Homo sapiens: one gene and its partner. The protein of the gene in region 1 interacts with the protein of each later gene in a pairwise test. Each region holds a gene or a part of one and is shown on either strand. Other genes may lie near its edges.

Region 1 (3,755 bases):
GAGCCAGAAAAGTTCTCCTTAAGAAGGAGCTATTCGAGCTAAACCTGGAAGGACTGGTAGAATGGAGCTGGGCAAAGCGAGGGGGTGACGCACCATCCACCAGCAGAGGAGCAGAGCAAGGGGGAGTGTGCGCCACCATCTGACTGTCGAAGCCATCAGGCTGGAGTGCAGAGATCCCAAGCAGGGCGTGCCTGCACAAACAGGGTGTACTTGAGCAAGTTATTGTTACTTCTAGGCTTGTTTTCTCATCTGTGCTATTGGAGTAACAGAAATATTGAGAGGATTAAGAGGGAATATATAAAGTATGTGACCTCAACTTCCTATGAGCCTAGGACATAGTAAATGCTCAAAAATATTAATTATTATTTTTGTTATCGGCACATAGGAAGCATTCAATAAATGTTAGCTCTCTTTCTCCTGATTCCTTTCTTGGTGGGGAATAGTATATAAGTTTGCCAAGTGACTTGCCATTTGTCTTCATTTGAGGATAACTACACCTTATCTTGTCAATTTGTACTTGTGGATTTTCCCCACTAGAACTTAAAACACTCTGAGAGCAGGAATTTTGTTTTTTCTGTTTTGCTCATAGCTGTATCCCCAGTGCTAGAATAGTGCCTAGCATATAGAAGGCATGCAGTAGGACATGAAGGACCTTCCTCTCCCCCAGTTTCATGGGGGGTGGGGGTGGAGGCAGCAACTAGAGCGAAGAGGCAACTGAAACAGGCACCTCATGACTTAAGGGAAAGTGTGGGATAAAGTATCTAGATATCTGCCTTCACTGTAACTGAGGGAACCTGATTCCAGAAAAGCCCCACTCAAGTTTCTAAAGTTGTTTTTTTGTGGTTGGAGGGCTTCGTGGGAAGTTTGGGAAAGGGGTGGGGGATAGTTTTCCTAGAAGGCCAGACTTTAGCTGTGACTGAAGTATAAATTTACACACACCCTTAGAAGCTCATGTGCCTGCCCCTCGGAGTTACGGGGTTCCTTGGGTGACAGCACTTCCTTCCAATCAGAACCTCGCCAGAAGTAAGCATAGAGGTGGGACAGGTTCTGTTTGGTGATCTGCGATTTAACAGATCAATTTGCAGCCTCCTCTGGCAGCTTGCTTTAAGTTTCCCTAGGCTGTGCTCCTGGTTTCATAAACATACAACCAGGCCCTGCCAGAGCCAGCACAGTATTCCCTGGCCCAGGGCCGCTGACTGTACTCACCACTGAATTTTTAAAAACAAAATAAAGCCTAGCCATTAACCCCACTACATTAATTTCTCTTATCGTGGTTGATGTCAAATGTGAAACCCCTCCCAACATCTGTCATGTCTAAATTCAGACCTGCGATCAGATAGCACAGCATATTCCTGTGCCTTTCATTGAAATCACCTTTTTTTTTCCTACGTTGCATAGCAATATAAATAAAACACTACACCCCCACCAAGCCGCATATGTTGGCTTAAAGGAAAACCTGGGCGCTGTTTATTCCTTGGTTTATTGTTGTATGGTCAGTGTTTTCCTATCATTGTGCTGCACTAGCTGCTCAGCGTTACTGACCCACAGGAAGCAGAGCTGTTCATTGTTGAAAAGCAGATTCCATATATGGCAAGTCTGAAGTTGCCCTCCTTTCCTTCTCACCATTATTAATACAGCTTTGGGTTTTCACTTGGGGATGCCTAACAGGTACATTTAAGAAAGACAGTGTCTTGCAGGCTTGGGAGTCAAAGAAGTTTGACTCACATGAATCTCATAGAGGTCACCTTCCACTCTTTCCCAAACTTATTTCAAACAGTAACTTCAGAGCAATCACCTGTCAGAGACATTGGTTTAGGAAAAAATACCTAAAGAAAGTATTCTTTGGAGACCAGCCCATAAGGCAGATAGGAATGTTCTCAGCCTCGCTGGAGGAGAATCTTCATTTCTGATTTTTGTCAAGGTGGAAAGAGAGTACCAGGGGCCAGTGTCCCCTAGTGTGGACCTAGAATTGCTAGGAGGAACAGATAGCCTACAAGAGGGGACAGTCTGAAGAAGCCACAGCTATGGTGCCAGGGTTCCGGTAGACCTCGGACAGACCTATGCAGCGTGGCAGTTCAAATCCAGGAATCCAAAACCTGGGCAGTGGATACTGACATCATACTGCCTGACTCTATTCCTGCCTCCACTCTTTACTACCTAGGGGACTTTGGGCAAGTTGTTTAACCTCTTTGAGCCTCCATTTTCTCATCTGTATAATGGACATAATAAACTACTAATATCTGTGAACTTTGTGCACATAAAATGAGTTAATATATGTAAGGTTATAAGTATGGTTCATGCATACAGTAAATAATAACATATCAGTAATAGTTGTTTTTAAATACTAGAAGTACAAATGGGAAAGTAGAATCTAGAATCCAAGAGGTTCATAAAGTCACAACAAAGCAGGCAGGTGTTTTACATCCAGCTAAGCAAGCAAGGTAGCAAGAGGCTTGGAGTTTATCAAGGGCATGGAGTCAAAAGGAGAGATCACTTCCTCCACCGTTCCCTGCCAAGTGCTGGGAATTCAAAGATGATTAAGACACAGCCCTTGATCTTGAGGCACTCATGCCTTTATTTAGCCTCCATTTTGCCTTTGATTAGAATTTATTCCCTGTTTAGTCTTTGCTCCTTGAGGGCAGGGACTGTGTCCTTTTGGCATCCCCTTTCTCCCAATCCCTCAGTACCTAATAGAGTTAAGCATGGCTCCAGCTAAGGTAGTTGTGTGCACTGACCCTGGAGCAGGATCTGTTTATTTCCTTTCCCACTTCTGTGCTACTAAGTGGAGGCCAAGGAAAAGCAATGGGAAAACCTTTGGTGATCAGTGCCTCTCAAACTTTAACGTGCGTACAGATCACATAGGGAGCTTATTCAGCTTTATTCGGATTCAGTGGGTCTGCATTTCTAACAAGCTCCCAGGTGATGCTCGTGTTGCTGGTCTGGGAACATGCTTTGAGAACCCCTGTTTTAGATGTGGCCTGAAGAGGTCAGAGATTCAGCAGTGGCACTTGTTTCTGACTGAAGCAGGGTGTGCCCTGCTTCTTGGCTTACTCACTTGGCTTGTTTTTGGCAGTTCTTTTAATTTCAGTTACCACTTTACCTTTATTAAGTCTCTTTTTTACGCTAATACTTGATGCTTTCTGGAATTACCGGGAGGCCACCTGTCCATTGTTCATTGCATTTCACCTTGTTGTTCTAGAACATCAGCCATGAAGTGTCTTTGGGTCTCCAACCATGTGTGACAAAAGAGAACGTAACCTCTATCCCCCAACCTTGACAGTTAATATCGCGAAGCTGCTCCCTTAAAACAAGTGATGCTATACTGAGCACTGAAACAAATCATGTCATGGTTGCTAAGGAATTAAAGAGAGAATGCTGCCAGCAAGATGGAAATACCAGATGGGCTGGGAGCACATCTTACAGATGAATTAACTCGGGTTACCTTGGCCTGCCTTTTTCATCCTCTTTGAATTTGATTGGGAACAAAAATAACAATGCTTCAGTTTACGAAGTGCTTTCATATGCGTTATCCCACCTGATCATGAATCACAACAATCTCACGAAATAGTGTAATTATTCCCATTTTACAGTTGTGAAAGCTGAAAGTCAGGCACAGTAGGTGGTATGTCCCAGGTCTTCTGACTTTAAACCCCATGCTTTTTTCATTGTTTTAATTTATTGGAACGTGTAGAATATAAGGTATAAGAAATGCTGCTAACTTGGAAAATCTGAAGCCTGTGATCAGGGAGATTATA
Region 2 (3,755 bases), on another chromosome or scaffold:
TTTTAGCATGTAAATTATTATAAACCACCTATAAACTATTAACACTACACTTAAATAAAATAGCTGTTCACATCATACCATAATTATTAAACATTTTCCCTCATACTAATTGGCCAAATGTCATGACTGATTATTCACTGTTCTTAGAGAGAAGCAAGATGTACTCATCGAGGAAAGCTGTAGAAACAAGTTCAGCTACAAACACAGGCATGGCTACGACATGCAACATGCCCTGCAACACACAAATTCCGCCAAGCATTTACCCTGGTAATTACGAAGTCTCAAAATTTACCTGACGTTGTCATGATGAGGATTAGAAGTGGCGGCAGCAGACCCACCACGCAACACAGGTCTAAGGCAGGTTTTTGCGGGAGAAGGCACAAGACAGAATCAGGAAACAGAGAAGTAATAAAATAAAAGCAAAAACAAGACAAATAAATGTCAAATAGGATTATATTGTATATTTCAATACAATATAATATCTCTCAACTACTTTAAAAAATCCTTGTCTCATGTGTCCTCCATTTTATCATTTTCATAAACTCAACATTACTATTGATCAAAGAAACAAAGGGAATCTATATTTACACGACAAAACAGCACCAACATATAAAATAATTTTCTTGGTGCTTTACTTTATGAAATTTAAGACAGAGGACAACTCTGCTTAAAAAGTGTAATTCCTTTCTTCCAGTTGGAAAAAAAAAATCACTAGCACCTTTAAAAGCATATCAGGACCTGGTTAGCTGCACCGGTATGACCACAGTTGCTCATCTGATATCAACAGCTCTATCTCAAAAACCGTATTCATAAATTTCAAGAAACTCCATTTCCCACACTTCCTTCCCTCCCACCTCATTAATTTTGAGTAGTGCCTGATGTCTCGTTGCAGCTGTGTCTCATTCAAACTCTCAGCTCTCCAGAGTGAAAATGCAAGCCTCCACTCTGAAGCTGAGATCAGGAGACGTGCTAGAGCACATTACAGGAAGGGCAATCCACAATTTGAGTCTGATCTTGAGACAGCCAGGAGTGACATACAGGGCTGCTGGAAATGAAGACTAAGGTGCAATGGGAAACTTGGTGGGGATTTCCACTCATTCTCAGTATATACTTTGGCGCTAGAGGACAGTTAGCTTTCTACTTTGATAAGCAGTAACCTTTCCAATACGTTTTATCTTTTAAAATCAGAAAACAAAAGCTTCTAAGTGTTCACTGGTCAATTCCCCCTAAAACAATCAGCAATATTTACTAAGCAGAGAAAGGAGACTGGAGTGTTGGATCCATATAAAGATTTGAAGAATTATTAAATCCTATTTTGGATATCTCATTCTCTAAGTAACTGATCTGGTTTTGCCTGAATTTAAGTATCAAGACAATAATTATATAATGGTAAATGTTTAATACCAAATGCACTAATTTTTTCTGTAAGTTGGCACAGCTGTGGAATTTTGACTACAATACAAATTATTTTCTGATAATTCAATTCATGTAAGAAAATTCTAATGTTTAACTTCTACATGTCTTAAAGGTACTACCAGTGCTTAAAGAAATTTCTGGAGCCTAGATGATAAGGGATTCAGAGACTTTTTGGGGGAACATGTTTGACTTTTATTTTACTGGCTAAAAAACATGGAGAAATCACATATGCTTAAGACAGGTCTTTAACTCATCTCATCCTACTAACATATTTACTCTGTGGCATTAGGAAACCTGTTATTTAACTACAATCTTAAATTGCACTAACATGAAAATGGTTAACTAGATGAAGCCATCACTGTGTGCTTCCTAAAGCTTTTTAAAATGCACACAGTATGTTCAAATGGGTCTGTCATATTCAACCTATTCCACCACAGAGATTTCCCTTTTATAACGCAGAGCCAGAAAATAATACAGTTACCTTTCACAACGTATTTCATTTTGTCTTCTCACACTGGCAATTGACACATATATTGTAAAAGTAAATTAGACAGGTATGTGGCAAAGTTAGAAACTTCATTCAAGTACCATTTTCTACGATAAGTATGATTTAATACATAAAATCTTCTCAACAGTATGTTTTGTAGAGTGGCAAAAGGGAAAGAAATCCAAGGCTACCACCAAGCTCCGCCATTAACTTGCGTACTGACATTTTTTGAGTAAATACACTCTGACGTAACAGAATATGTGTTTCTTTGCTATAAAAATGTAATCTGCTACAGAAAATAAAGTTTAATTGGGGATCAGGAATTATACACTTTTTTAAAGAGAAAAATTATAAATAACAAACGCTGTATCCACTGCAACTCTGGATTTCTAGGTCTTCCAAGCTGTATATTTATAGGGATACTTGCCAAAAATATAAATTATTCATACATTGGTTTCTTATTCTATGCACTCAAAGCTGGTACAATCTGTTAAGGAAAAACTGCATAAAAATAATCAAGCCCCTCGTAAAAATGAGAGCTAAGCATGACTCATCTATCAATATTTAAATAAGGTTCTTACACAGGAACTAAGTTTCTTTTTGAAGATGCGAATATTTTACATTGTAAAATGAGATACATAGCTCTAACAGATACAGGGAGAGACCGGCATTTTCTAACCAGTTAAGGACCAAATCATAATAGTATTTTAATTTCTGCTGCACCTGAGCAAATGACACACCTGGTGCTTTGGTAAATTTTCAGTGTATCAGTTCTCCAAATGCGTAACACTCACCTGTGTAAATAAACTTTTCTAACATGTACCTAGGATTTAACTTGGTTTTCACGTTGAGTTTGGTTTAGATCATCTACATTCTTGTAAGAAAAAAATATATGGTACACAAACCTTTTGACAGCGTCCTTTAAAATGTAAACTGAACACAGTTCTTATGTCAAGGAATTGTGAATCTGCATTACTTCATAGTGATAAAGCAAGCAGAAAGCTTTTTTCTTTTTCTGCCAAATAGTTCTAGTTTAAATTAACTACACCTAATGTGATGGCATATGACCAAAGATAAGGTATTGCATTAGCATAATAGCCAAGAGTAATAAAATAGAAAAGAAAAAATGATCTACAGAGCAAGGAACATAGAAGCACTTAAAATTTTATAAGCAGTATTATTTTATAATCATGCAAGTAGAACATTATCCAAATTTCACATTCCTATTTCTTATATCTGAAAAGTCATGCCAGATACTTCTCACAAAGGAAATAAAAACTGATTTGGCACTTAAAATTCTGATAAAATCTTGCTCAACACTGAGATCCTAAGTGAATACAACTTTAAAAAATCCTTTCAATACTGAAAGCGTCAATAAGACTGATGAGAATCTAACCCTCCAAGCTCCAAGGTAACAACTAATGCTACAGATCTAGGAGAAAAGCATTATTAATATAACTCCTTCATGAACTTTTAAAAACTTACTGAAATGAATGAGAAAAGAGAATTCCTTCCCAGAAAAGGGATTTTAGAGTTATCAATTCATCACAATGTAAAAAAGTGAAATAAAATTTCACTGAAAGTCCAAAAATATTTTTCATTATTAAAAAAATACAAAGTTTATACTAATACGATTTTTGATTTTATACATTTGACTCTGAGGCACAATTTTTTTTCCATTATGGAGGAAAAAATCCATATTTTTATAAGTTCCACATTATTGCAATGAACTGTGTATATGCTGGTGAGGGGGAATTGGGACAAATAATTTTTTTTCTTTTTTTACTTTTTGGGACATATAATTTTAATGTACTGTGACTCTGCCATCTAGCTATTATTACTTTTTATACAA

The links. Proteins that work in one complex are often made in the same cells at the same time.
Region 2: the proteins of TSPAN2 (region 1) and MFF interact in binary tests that used the Homo sapiens proteins (3 or more experiments, as listed by UniProt).

The regions. Positions count from the first base shown.
Region 1 is NC_000001.11:115,082,752-115,086,506, reverse strand, and holds part of TSPAN2 (tetraspanin-2), read left to right. Parts: intron 1-3,755. UniProt on the Homo sapiens protein: May play a role in signalling in oligodendrocytes in the early stages of their terminal differentiation into myelin-forming glia and may also function in stabilizing the mature sheath.
Region 2 is NC_000002.12:227,349,111-227,352,865, reverse strand, and holds part of MFF (mitochondrial fission factor), read right to left. Parts: intron 353-3,755; coding exon 293-352; intron 1-292. UniProt on the Homo sapiens protein: Plays a role in mitochondrial and peroxisomal fission. Promotes the recruitment and association of the fission mediator dynamin-related protein 1 (DNM1L) to the mitochondrial surface.